2 separate regions of the Homo sapiens genome follow, and region 1 is reported to be linked to region 2. The links are microRNA targets in miRTarBase. Many come from high-throughput screens and were not tested one by one. Region 2 holds a microRNA gene; the other region holds the end of a gene's coding sequence.
The links. Region 2 holds the annotated microRNA hsa-miR-4279 (CUCUCCUCCCGGCUUC, at 4,932-4,947, opposite strand). A microRNA usually pairs through its seed, bases 2 to 8, with sites in the 3' UTR of a target mRNA and lowers its output. Matches are read on the target gene's strand: a 7mer-m8 pairs with bases 2 to 8, a 7mer-A1 pairs with bases 2 to 7 and ends in A, and an 8mer does both.

Region 1: miRTarBase lists VTA1 as a target of hsa-miR-4279. Seed matches in the 3' UTR shown: 7mer-A1 at 3,349-3,355, 7mer-A1 at 3,775-3,781 and 7mer-A1 at 5,738-5,744.

The regions. Positions count from the first base shown.
Region 1 is chr6:142,218,103-142,225,211 of GRCh38, forward strand. It overlaps VTA1 (vesicle trafficking 1), which reads left to right. Exons shown (of 8, transcript NM_016485.5): 8 at 396-6,583. The coding sequence ends at 541. Among named protein-coding and RNA genes, the nearest start is that of LINC02919, 38 kb to the right of the region's middle.
Region 2 is chr5:31,931,181-31,938,306 of GRCh38, forward strand. It overlaps MIR4279 (microRNA 4279), which reads right to left and starts at 4,979; the gene lies at 4,922-4,979. The region is part of intron 2 of PDZD2 (PDZ domain containing 2); the gene reads left to right.

The DNA.
Region 1 (7,109 bases), not on the chromosome of region 2:
TTCACTTTTTTTTTATTGAAGGTGATACTTACATTCCAGCTCAAATGAGGGTTGAATTGGTTTAGTCTGTGTGTATTGTTCCATGAAGAGAGAGGCTAAGTGATTTTAGCATAGACACCAAAGCTGCTATCCTTGTTTGTCCTTATTGCTTCTTGAAGGAAAATCTTAATTCATCTAAGTTATTATGTATTGCCGTGTCTGTGGTTTATATTAGTAATAAAAAGACAATTGAAAAGAATGAAGAAAATGTATCAAAGTTCATGTGAGATTGACTAAAACTACTGTTTTTACATAGCCTTAAATATGTTTTTTAATCTTAAGCATAAGCATTTGCCCAACCTTACAGAACACTTTTTATATTCTTATAAATATCCCAATTGTTCTTTTTCTTCTAGGGGATGTTCGTCTAACCCCAGAAGACTTTGCTAGAGCTCAGAAGTACTGCAAATATGCTGGCAGTGCTTTGCAGTATGAAGATGTAAGCACTGCTGTCCAGAATCTACAAAAGGCTCTCAAGTTACTGACGACAGGCAGAGAATGAAGCCTTTGTATGACAGACCCATGTATTTTTGGCATGAGGAACTAACAGTCCATTACTCTATCTTCAGCCTATCAGGATCACAGTTTTAAGGAAGACTTGGTTTTGTTGAATATGACAATGAAATCTGTGTGTATCAGATTTTTATTGAAGCATTCATCAGCAGCCTCAACCAGTTTTCATTGTCCATTTACTAGATTCAATCGTCTCTGAGTATATAGGGCTGATGTTAGCAAGACCCTAAAAATGTCCATTGAACCCTGCTTCAAAAAATGAAAACACACCTCTATAAAATGTGTACTGGGAATAAGCTTTGTATTTACATACATTAGGGGAATTTTTTAAAATCTGTAATGTTTGGACAAACAGATGATATTACTTTGCTATAAAATTATAAATGTAACTTTTAATAAAGATAGCCAGAATATTCTAAATTAGAAATTACGTTTTTGTTTCCCTCAAGACATAAAACAAATATAAACATTCTAAACTGCTGGATGAATCTGAAAAGACATTAAGTTCAAATTTTAATTTATTCTCATATTAAATATAACTCCATTAAAAGTTTAAAATTTCATGGGAGAAAATATAATAAGGTAAAGAGGTAGAATCACTTTCAGACTTAAGAATAATGTTGATTTCCCAAGTGCTTTACCTTATCTGTTAAAGCGTAAGATGAATTGGTATTTGCTTCATAGGCAGTTTGACTGCATGTATTAGAGAATGAAAAGAAGATATTTGTAGTAATGCCTGGAAACTTGGTGCTTTAAATTAAGGTACTCCTCTGCTGCTGTAGAATGGATTCCACACAGTGGATAGCTATGGGTGATTCAGAATATTATGTTTAGATTCCCATTTGTTAAGTTTATAAGTTTTGTGGGGAATTATGAACTTACTGTGTACTACCTGCATTTGTGCTGTGTGAAAAATAAATACAAGGATTCGTTTAGCTAATTCAACTTACTACAAAGACAAATGTCTGTTTTTATTTGCCTGCTAGGATTGTCTTTTTTAAAAGTCATTTTTATTTATAGGAATATGGGTGTTTCTATAGGAAGAAACAGGTTTTTTGTTTTTTGTTTTTTAAGATAAATTTGACAAAGTTAACTGAAATTTATCTGGTCCATTTTATTCATGCTACTAAGATGGGAATCTTTAAACACAAGGGTCAGCAAGCTTTGGCCCATGGATTGGCCACCTGTTACGTAAATAAAGTTTCTTTGAAACAAGCCTACACTCATTCATTTATGTTTTGTCTGTGGTTGCTTTCCACAACTGCAGAGTTGTATGGCTTGCAAGTCTAAAAACATTTACTATTTGGCCCTCTAAGAAAAAGTTAAGACACCTAGTCTAATGGCCTTTTGGGAAAAAACAAATCACTAACTCATAATCATTTATATCCATTATTTTCTGCATAAATGTAATGCTATTGTACAGGGTTTGGTAGAATAAATATTCAGACTGACTAAACTGTTCTAAATCCTCACAAAAAAGTCCCCAAACAACATGCCTCCTAAAAAACATTTTCCTATCTTTTACAAGAGGTATGAACATTTGTAGGGTTCCACATTTGCATCTAGAAATCCAATGCTCTTTAGAATGTTATTACGAATAGAAAGATGGCCAGGATGACCTTTAGTGTTACATGATGTTCAGCAAATTTTAATTCAAACCTTGATATGCCTGGACACTGAAAAGTAAACGCATCACCTCCTATTTTATACCCTACCTTCTGGTTCCCAATTGGGAGAGCACATAGAGGGAAGGAGACAATATAGAAACTACGGAGTCCGCTGGTAGTGGGCTGCATGGTGTGACAGAGCCCTTCTCTGTAAAATGGAAATGACACCACTAGCCATCTCAATAGTTACAAGAATTAAAAGAGATACAGTACCTGAAGTGCTTAGCGCATGGTAGCATTTCATAAATGTTTAGTGTCAATACTAATGCTCTAATAATGTAAATTGTTAATAATTTATTTCCCTAATATCAGGAAATCCCAGTTGTCTATGTGGCCCAGTGCTTAAAAACGCCTTCTTGCATGAGGGGATTGAACTATACAATGTTTGTTAACTTTGTATTTGTATTTTTTCCTATAAAATCTTAAAATAAAATTAGGAGATGTGTTCTGATGTAACAGTAGGATTAGCAATTTTCATTTATTCCTTCCATATATATTTACTGAATGGCTACTATATGCCTGGTATTGTTCTTTGAAAGCAGAAACAGCAGGAAAAAAAGTCCCTCCCTCATAGAGTTTACATTCTAAAAGGGAGGAAATAGATAATAAAATATACATTACATTTAATCAGTGGCTCTCCGAGTGTGATTAGAAATACAAATTTTGGGCCCCACCTGTCCTACCCAATCAGAAACTCTAGGGATGGGTCCCAGCCTTCTGAGTTTTAAGAGACACTTAAGGTGGTCCCTAAAGTTCGAGTGGTTTAGCTCTACCCAAATCAGAAATATTGCAAGTCTGAGAAAAGAGATTCTCCTCAAACCGGTTCTCAAAGGTGTCTCTGGACGACCGGCATCAGCATCACCTGCGAACTTGCTAGAAAGTTCTGGGGACCACACTATGGGAACTTCTGTATTAAATAGTGATAAATGCTATGGAGGAAACATTGAGGACAGGATAGGAGATGCTTAGGTGTGTACAGACATATGCATATTTCAATAGAATAGCCAGGATAGACCTCCCTGAGGTAACATTTGAGCAAAGAAGGAAAAGAGTAACTAGTATGCAGATACATACATGGAGGAAGAGCATTCCCAACAGGTAGACAGAAATCAGGTCAGAGGGTAAAAGCAGGAGAAAGGCTGGTGAGGGAGCTAAAAGCTTAGGATCATAAAGCTTTTTTGTAAGACACTTGACTGGGAGCTATATGGAAAGGTTTTCAGAAGAAACGTAGCCTGATGTGACTTAACTTTTGAAATAATCATATTGGCTCCTATGTTGAGAATAGACCGTAAGGTGGGTGGTAAGTAAGGGAGGAAGCTGGGAGACCAGTTAAAAAGAGTATTAACAATAGGCCGGGGGCGGTGGTTCGCACCTGCAATCCCAGCACTTTGGGAGCCAAGGCAGGCGGATCATCTGAGGTCAGGAGTATATATTTATTAATATATAAATATGTATTTATATATAAATCATAAATATATTAATAAATATATAATATATATATTAGCCTGGCATGGTGGCACATACCTCTAATCTCAGCTACTGAAGAGGCTGAGGCAGGAGAATCGCTTGAACCCAGGAGGCGGAGGTTGCAGTGAGCCGAGATCGTGCCACTGCACTCCAGCCTGGGCGACAGAGCGAGACTCCTTCTCAAAAAAAAAAAAAGTATTACAATAATCAAGGTGAGATATTATGATGTCTTAGTCCAGGAGTAGCCTTGGAGGTAATAAAACGGGATTGGTTTCTGGCGGCTTTTTTTTAGGTAGAGCCACAGGATTTCTGTAAACTGGATGTGAGGTACGAACATAAGAGAAGGAGTAAAGGTTGACTCCAGATTTTTCACCTGAATGCCTGAAAGGAATGAGTAATCATGTACTGCAGTAGGGAAAGTTGCCGAATTCCTCTCTCACTTAGACTGAAGTACAATGTTTCCAAGTTTTTGTGACCAGCCCAAGTGAAACTGATAACGGTGTTTTGTCAATGCGGCAGAGGGAGAAGAAGAAATAAGGTTCTGCTGACAATGATTGCCACAGATATCTCACCAAATCACTGCTGAACTGGAGCTGCAAGCCAAGAATAGTTCCCATGGTTAGCATGGCCTAGGAAGTTTACTGACATCAGGACTACACCAAGAAAAAGACTCCAGTTATGGGTCTTGAAAATTAATATCCTCAGATGTTTTTAGAATTTATATATGACTTGTAATTCTAGAAATTTGAGAATTCTATGTATGCATTGAAAGATTATATACTGTCTTTTCTAAAGAAACACCCTAATAGCAGCATTGTACAAATATTTTCAACTCTAAAAGAATAATAGCTAATGGAGTTGATGGGTTTTGGTTTTCATATGAGAAGTATCCTTCCCTGGTTGGTTGTAATCTTTGAAGTCTATGTGGAATTCTAAGACTGCAGGCTTGTTCATTGGAGTACACTTAAGTAGGACAAATTCTAAGTAAGCAACACTTCAATAATAATCATAATAGCTAACATTTCAATGTTTACTAAATGTCAGATACTATTCTAAGTATTTTGCATATATTAATTCATTTAATCTTCACAGTGGTCCTGAGAGGTAGGCTTTATTTCTGTTTTAAGATGAGGAAAGGGAGCCACAGAGTAACAAATTTGCCTAAGGTAACACAGCTAATATTTATTTCTAAGCTCAGACTGCCTGTTTCAGATCATAAGAAGTATCATCCATGTCAGTAAGTCACCTGTTACATTGTAAGTACAATGAGATGTTATGAGTTCCACATTATCAAGGTCATTGGACAGTTCCTTTTATTAGTGAGGTGTTAGCACCTAAATTTTTCTATTATCTGGGCCATATGTTCCAATTGACAGTGCTAGGCAGTGAACACAGGGTATGAACTTGAAAATCTGATTGCACCCTCAATATCTGGAATATACACTGATCTATGACCTGAAATTGTATGGACTGCAGCAATCCAAGGGGACACTAAGCAGGGTTTGAGTAATGCTACAATGGATTTATAGGTCATTTTGGAGAAGGTGTTCCACATCATTAGGGAGTCTGGGTTTCCCAGATGTGCCTGTTTTATCCTTTTTATTTTAAATAACATCACTGTCTTTCCTAACTAAAAATTCTTCATCTTCAGGAAATAAGATTGAGATACGGACTGAAAATATAAAATTAGCAATAATGTTTATTATTAGATACTTCCTCAATTAAATTTCTCCCTGAAAGTCTTAGGCAAAAGCCCCTGTCTCTTACTTCATATATCAAGTTTGGAGGGAAAGACATAATTGCATAGCAGTATTCCATGAATATAACTTAATGGGGAACTGGCTTCAGAGTTCAGCAATATTGGGAAGTCTTGTCAAATATTAAGTCATTCATATGTTCAAAAATATTAATATGTATTGAGCATCTACCATCAAATATTTAATATGATAATGCCATACTGGATATTATATACGAGTTACAATAATTCTTCCTAAAGTCAGGGAAAGCTTCACAGATAAGGTTGAGCTGAAGGTTTGGCAGGCAGGGAAGCAAGGAGAAGTTAGCAGAGAGAAAAGCACAAGCAACACCATGGAGGAACAAATGTGGGCAATTCAGGTAACTCGAGTAATTTAGTGTTACTATGCATATGGCCTATGGAGGCCAGGAGTGTAAATGTATTATGGCTGGGGCGGGGGGCTAGGGAATGTGTTATGACTAAATTGTATCCCTTCAGAATTCATATTTTGAAGCACTGATCTCCAGTGTGTCTGTGTTCAGAGGCAGGTCCCATAGGGAGGCAATTAAGGTTACATGAGATCATAAAGGTGAGGCCCTAATCCTATAGGTCTGCTGTCATTACAAGAAGAGGAAGAGCCACCGGAGCTGGCTCATTCTGCACGTGTACAGAGAAGAGGCCATGTGAGGACACGCAGAGGCTCGAATATGCTCTCAACCCTATCAGTTGCCTGCTTTAATTCATCCCATGGAATTGTTTTGTCTTTTCGACCCCTCGGCTATGTTATTTGTATTGTGATATAGGGGATATTCGGAGTCCTCTGAGACGGGACAAGGACACTGGACGGTCTATTGTGCCATGCTTATATATTTTCTGTATACAATGCTTTCTGTATAAAACCAGTAATACCTGAGAAACAACAGTAACTTGACAAAATTACTATTGATCACTTAACTTTATGTATCACGTAAGTTAAACTTTATTTATTTACATGTGTCTCCCTCATTAGATGCTAAGTTCCTTGATATTTTATACATTTGTGAATTCCTGGTAATTCACATGAAGCTTGATGCATTGTAAGTATTCTGACCTGGTGAAATAAATATACGAATGGGCAAAAAAATATATACTAAAATGATCAAATAAAGGTTGTGTTCAGAAACCTCTGTTCTATTATATCATAGTGATTTAAGATTATAATAATTGCATCAAAACGTTCTGAAATCACATATTAATCTTACTTATCAAAAAAATCCAGTCCATGCCACCCAGCAAGTCTCGATTCTTAATTCGAATGCATGGTTCTTTATCTTTTGACACCATGAAGCATGATGTCAGGTATGCTCAGGACATTCTTAGAATATACACTAATAACATCCTAGTCACAGACATATATGATACTTGTTAGCAGCTTATATGTTCTTGGTCTGTCTATACTCTGGCAGAGATTAATATATTCAAGCTCAATGGAGTGAAGAAGTAGCAATGTGTATCTTAAAAATGGGAGAAAATATTTAGACCACATTGAAAATTGAAAATATTTATGGTGACTGAGGAAATTGTAACTGGAAGATTATTGCTCCAGATGAAGAGACAAGAGGAAGTTTAAAATTAAAGCCACCAATGACATCTGAACATTTTGGGAAAGTCAGAACTCATTTGATTTTTTTTTCCTCAATAGTTAATCT
Region 2 (7,126 bases):
CCTGGCTAATTTTTGTATTTTTAGTAGAGATGGGGTTTCACCATGTTGGCCAGGCTGGTTTCGAACGCCTGACATCAAGTGATCCACCTGCCTCAGCCTCCTGAGTAGCTGGGATGACAGGCGTACACCACTATGCCTGGCTAATTTTTGTATTTTTAGTAGAGACGGGGTTTCACCATGTTGGCCAGACTGGTTTCGAACTCCTGACATCAAGTGATCCACCTGCCTTGACCTCCCAAAGTACTGGAATTACAGGCGTGAGGCGCTGTGCCTGGCCGCATAGTAGATTTTTTAGGGCAGGCTGAGTTTGAGGTGGCTGCAGGACACCCAGCTGCAGCTGGGCAGGAGTTGAGGGTCTGAGCTCAGAAGAGAGATGGAGATTGAGGAGCTGGTGGCTCTTACTTGGTTGCTGTAGCTATGGAAGTAGATGGGATAATCCAGGTGACAGGAGGGAGGAACGAAGAAGCTGGTACCCCTCCAAGGCCCACCCTGGCCTGGCAGGAGGAATGAGACTGAAAAGGGGGCCAGAGAGCTGGAGGCAGCTCTGTCCACTAGAGGCTTATGGCTCATGGGACAGATTTGACAGCTAAGAAACAGATCTGTATACAATGAAGGCCCCAGAGCATGATGGTGTCAGTGTATGCTGCCGGCGTTGTGTGAGTTGAGGGTGTGTGAACTCCAGGAGGGCTGGATGGGAGGGGAGGGGTGGGCCACAGCCGCACGGAGCTTTCTCAGGTGTGATTCTGAACCCTTTCCATTAATGGCAGAAGTTGGAAGGGAGCTGCCTCCCCAAATTTGCAGGCCAAGGTCCTCCCCGCTTGCACAATTGGCAGGGTGTTCCCCATCAGTGCTGACATTATCATCTCCCATCAAGGGGCAGGAAAACAAACCTTGTTTGCTTTCATAACTTTCTGTGTGTGATTTTTGACTGGGGGATGGGAAAAGGGGAGAAGGAAATGTTAGTGCTTCCTGTTGTTTTTAAGACCATTTATGAATTGCATTTTATGGTCTTTTCATTTTGTGACATCAAGCATATGAAGCATGATAGCCATAGAACTGGCCAATGAGAAAATGTAAAGAAAACCAAACCGGGTGCAGTGGCTCATGCCTGTAATCCTTGTACTTTAGGAGGCCGAGGCAGGCAGATCACCTGAGGTCAGGAGTTCGAGACCAGCCTGGCCAACATGGTGAAACTCCGTCTCTACTAAAAATACAAAAATTAGCTAGGCGTGGTGGCGTGTGCCTGTAATCCCAGGTACCCGGGAGGCTGAGGCAGGAGAATCGCTGGAACCCAGGAGGCGGAGGCTGCAGTGAGCCAAGATTGCACCACTGCACTCCAGCCTGGGCGACAGAGCAAGACTCTGCCTCAAAAAAAGAAAGAAAGAAAGAAAGAAAGAAAGAAAATCCAGGCTCCATTGACTTCACACACTTAATATAAAAGTTCTCATTTTAATAAATTTAAATGTATAGTTTTGTGGCATTAAGTACATTCACACTGTTGTGTAACCATCACCACTATCCATCTCCAGAAGGCTTTTCCTCTTGCAAAACTGAAACTCTGGATCCATTAAGCAGTAACTTCCCATTCCTCCTCTCCCCAGCCCCTGGCAACCACCATTCTACTTTCTGTCTCTGTGAATTTTACTATTCTGAGTGCCTCATACGATTAAAATCATATAGGGTTTGTCCTTTTATAACTGGCTTATTTCACTTAGCATAGTGTCCTTTTTTTTTTTTTCTTGTTTTTAAGACAGAGTTTCGCTCTTGTTGCCCAGGCTGGAGTGCTATGGTGCAATCTCGGCTCACTGCAACCTCTGCCTCCAGGGTTCAAGTGATTCTCATGCCTCATCCTCCCGAGTAGCTGGGATTACAGATGTGTGCCACCACGCCTGGCCAATTTTTGTATTTTTAGTAGAGACGGGGTTTCACCATGTTGGCCAGGCTGGTCTCGAACTCCTGACCTCAAGTGATCCACCCACCTCGGTCTCCCAAAGTGCTAGGATTACAGGCCATGAGCCACTGCGCCCGGCCAGCATAGTTTCTTTTCAAAACTCATCCAAGTAGTAGCATGTGTCAGAATTTCCTTCCTTTTTACGGCTGAATAGTATTCCATTGTACATATGTATCACATTTTCTGTATCCATTCATCCATCAGTGGATGCTTAGATGGCTTCCACCTTTTGGTTATTGAGTGGACAGTGCTGCTACAAATATCGAGGGTGTGAATATCCATTCGTGTGTCTGCTTTCGGTTCTTGGGTTTATACCTGGGGTGTCCCTTGGCTTTTGCTGTATGATCGACTCCTGCTGGGGATTTCTGGGATTGCCCTCTTTGTTACCTTTCTGTTTTAGCTTCTGGGAGAATCTTAGGTGTGTCCCTAGGCTGGGCTTTGTGACCCGCTGGACAGCCATTACTGAGCCCCTGCCTACAAAGATCCACACCTTGTCCCCTTGGCACCATCTTAGAGTTTGAATCAGGAAGATTTACGTTGTAACCTCAGTACTTCCACTAATGTGCCCTGTGATGTTGGAAAGCTTCCTCATGTTCCTGTGGGCCTCTGTTTCCACACGAACGCAATGAGAAAGTAGAACTCAGTGATCTTCAGGGTCCCTCCCGGGTGATGGACAGTGAGTGCACAGTGGTCTCCTAAGCCCAGTGACCAAGGAACCAAGGTGGACACGAAGAAGGCAGAGCCCCAGATGCCTGTCATGGATAATGCAATTCAGAAACTTGGGTCGGTTAGGTGGCTTGTGTACTTGCTGAATTCTGGTGTATGCTACGTGGCTCGTTTTGTGAGTAAATGTAGCAGTAATTCCCCTTAAAGCAAAACTATATGTTATATATTATCCACCCTTCGTTGAGAGAATGGGACAAAGAGAGGCAGGATAACTGGTTTTACCATAGATTTTTGGCAGATGTCACCAACTAATACTGTCAGGAATATTTTATAGGCAAATTTTACCTCTTGTTAGGACTGCAGTTTGGTCACAGGCCAAGGCAATTTTAATCTTTTTCCCTCACTTCTTTTAAAAGAAAAAAAAGCTAAAGAGCAGACTTCCTTCTCCTTAGCTTGAACTGTGAGCAGGAGTCCACGCTTTCCTGAACTAGGAAGGTGAGTTCCAGGAAGTTACCCACACGATCAACTTTCAGGCCTCTTGAATGCACACAAAAAATGTGGACTTGCCTGGGGCTCCCTGCTGGTGTTTGGAGACTAGGAACTAATCCTCCCATTAGTTCTTTCTCTGCCGCACCAGGGAAACATCATATATACTAGTGACTTTCTGTCTTCTTTATCTCATCAGTAAAAGGCGGATCCTGTTTTTGTTTTCAAGAATGTGTTAGGGTATTGGGATGGCTAGAATCCATTTGGAGCACATGAGAAAATGTATAGCATTTTCTGTTTAGGAGACATTTGAACCATCTAATTAAAAAAAAAAAAAAAAAAAGACTTAAGTCCGGATACTAGACCACCAGTTTTTTAATACATGGAAAATTTAGAAGCAATTTCAAAAATGTCTCACTGTGACTGGAACTAGGTTATGTCAATACAAGGCTCCTAGGGGAAAAATTTATACTGGATAAAACTCTAAAATAAATGAATATACTAAAAAACACCAAAAATCTGGCCAGCAGTGGTGGCTCACACCTGTAATCCCAGAACTTTGGGAGGCCGAGATGGGCAGATCACTTGAGACCAGGAGTTTGAGACCAGCTTGACCAACATGGTGAAACCCCATCTCTACTAAAAATACAAAAAATATCTGGGCATGGTGGCGGGCGCCTGTAATCCCAGCTACTCCAGGAGGTTGAGGCAGGAGAATCTCTTGAACCCGGAAGATGGAGGTTGCAGTGGGCCGAGATTACTCCACTGCACTCCCACCTGGGCAACAGAGCCAGACCCTGTCTCAAAAAAAAAAAAAGAAAGAAAATAGAATGGCTGCAAGAAGTAAACAGAGGATGTTTGCTCCTATTTTGTTCCTTACAAGTATAGCTAACAAAGGACCTTGTGAGTATTGGAATAATAAAATGTCATTCCCATTTAAGTTGCACATGTACATTTTTATACCTGCACCAAAGGTTTTTGGAATCTTTGTCTCTGGCTGTTGGATCATGAAAGACCCCTTTGGCTTCAGCTGTAAAACAAGGCAAATTTTACCCATAATAGAAACTACTATATATGTGTGTTGGTTTAGGGAAGCCTATTTTTTAACATTCTATTTCCTGATAAAACCTTAGAAAAATCATATTGTGTTTAAAAGTTGAGGATTTTTTCAGCAACTCAAGGGCTGACTGATAATTTCTGGTTTTGCTAGTACTTGTCTACAATGGAAGTTGGAAGCTTAGTCGGAGTAGAAAAGTTGTAAATTTGGTGTCATCAAGACAAATGGCTTTTATTTCCCAACAGACTTCTTTATAAAATAATTTAACCCCTTGATTTTTGTTTGCATTTGGATGCAATTTAAAAAAAAATCTGGCCCTTTAATAAGTGCAAGACAGATTAAATGTATTGTGAAATATCAGGTCACTGAGTGGAAAGTTTCTTCACTGATCATCCTAGCTTCACATTTTTAGTTATGTGAAGTACACATTTTGATAGTATTTTGGTTTTCTCCTGCCTGAAATCTTCAGTCCTCCTCCCTGGCAGTCTGTAGAATGAAGCAGCTGTGGTCCGTGGCCAAGTGTGCGTCCTTTGGTGATGGAAGAGCTGATCTGCAGATACCTGCAGGAGGAAGCCATGCATGATGTCTGCTGGGATATGATTTCCCCCCATACTCCTGGAAAATTAGAACCGTTTATAGCAGCCTGGTTCCAATACACTGGCAGGGCAAGGATTGGCTCCTTCTCTTACAAACACAGCGTGGCTGGATGCATTCATAAATGAAAAATGATCTGAGTGCTGTGGGTGGGTGGGGCTCTGGAGCTCAGGAGGTGAAGCCGGGAGGAGAGAGAGAGAATCTGCTCCTCAGCTCCACAGAGCATGGGGAGCTGGCAGGAAGTTGGAGCACGCATGGCGCAGCTTGTATTTTTGTTGATAGTTAATAACCCAGGACTTTAAAGACCTGAATGGAGAAGGGAAGTGAAGCACAACCAACTTTGGAGTCTGTCCCATTCCAGAGGCTGCTGAAGCACAGCAGAGCACGCTCACCTGACCAGCTCATAAAGCAGGTAGGACGGGAGACCTGAGTGGTGAAGAGAATCACATTTTCTCTCTGAACACAACTTACAGGTCTTCCAAGGGTTTATTATTTTTTAATTATATGAGAGATGAGCAGGTAATAATAACATAAAAGACTCAGCTTGAATTGTGCTGATATCTGCCCAAGCAAGAGTTCTCTCAGTTACTAGTGTGATGACCAAATGACAGTTTTATTCTGAGAGTTGCTTTAAAAAAAAAAAAAGAAAAAAAGCATGCAGCATTGAAGCTTTTTTAATTTAAACTCATTTAAAAATTGGCAGATGATAAATGAACTGCAGACACTGTGTTTTAGAACAAATACTTTGAAGGGAGTCAACCAGAAACCGATTTTCAGGCTTGACTGTGGCTCCATTTTCATATTTCAGAGCCAACGAGGTGCTCACTAATTTTTGCTGGCTTTTGTAAGAAAGGAGGTGGATGTATAACAGCTGTGAAATATCCAGAAATTGACTGGGATCCAGAGTGAAGCCCGAATGCACTAATGTTTTCTCCATTAAGGCAGGCTGCCTCTGCTCGGCTTCTAAGTCAAGGGATTGGAAAGCAGTGTGAAAGTGAAGTGTGAATCCTGAATATTTGTCATGGAGTGGGGGGAGTGCAGAGGGTTGGAAACTGTCACAGTGACGTTTCACACTCAGAAGTAGAAAATAAATGGGGAGGACCATGGGTGGCAGCCACATGCAAGGATAATTTTAAAACTGATTTTTGATTCCCATGATTGTAGCCGAGTCTCAGGGTGTTCCTTCCGTTGTCAAGGTTTGGGGCTTGTGATAAGAGAAGTAGAACAGAATAAAGATCATCTCCAGCCCCAGGTTCTGAATCATTTCTAGGCCTTGCTTCTCCTGGGCACTGGGATGATCTGACATGTTTTCCCTCACTAATGAAGTGGCCAGGGTGTTGGGGGATTGGGCTAACATGGAGGAGGTTGGATAGAAATGGTGCGTGTGGTCAGCCTGAGAAGAACGTCAGAGGTAGGTGGAGAATTTTGTTTCGGTAGAATAGCCCAGCCTGAATCCTGGAACTGTTTGCGTTGAGGTTTGGAGAATGCCCCGTAGCCACAGGGGTGTGTCTGAAAAGGCAAAATTGGGAGCTGCTTGGGTTACTGCTTACTGCCTGGCTGGCATCCTCATGCTGTGGTCATCCTCATGCCGTGGTGGCCACGTTTTGTGGCTTTGCATTTTAGTCCTGGAGGGCTGGGGGATGGCTGTGTTTAGTCAAGCAAGCCCACACATCATTGCTAGTCTCTCTTTCCGTGTGATTTCTCAGCATTACACAGCTAGCCTTCTATGGGAGGAGGAACGGCACCTCCTGTGGTCTTTTAGAAAACTTTTTCACCCCATGTTCCTACCGTCGCCACCCCAACTCTTGTCCTTTCTTGCCTACTGTTCACCTGTTGTGTGTGTCCCCTTTGTCTCCCATCCTTCAGACTGATCTGTCCCAGGTGCTATCTGCAGTGACTTAGAAGCTGTGTTGGGGACAGGTTCCTTCCCAGGGTTCCTGCTGGAAGCGGTGTTCAGCAAGCTATGGCCCTTAGGCAAATCCAGACTGCCCTAGCCTGTTTTTGTATGGCCTGGGAGCTAAGAATGTGTTTTATGTTTTGAAGAGTTGAAGAAACAAAGAAGAATATAGGACAGAGATAGTGACCCACAAAGCCTATCCGATCTTTAGAAAAAAACATTTGCTGGTTTGCTGGTTGGTCTGTTGATTTCCGCCCCCATTTAGAGACAGAGTTTCACTCTGTTGGCCAGATTGGTGTCAAACTTTTGACCTCAAGTGATCTGCCCACCTCGGCCTCCCAAAGTGCTAGGATTACAGGTGTGAGCCACTGCTCCCAGCACTCCACCTTGACCTGTTGATTTTTTAATATCATTGGTGAATAATGTGATCAGTGGGTTGATGCAGCAAGTTAAGCCCTCAGCAATTTGAATGGGC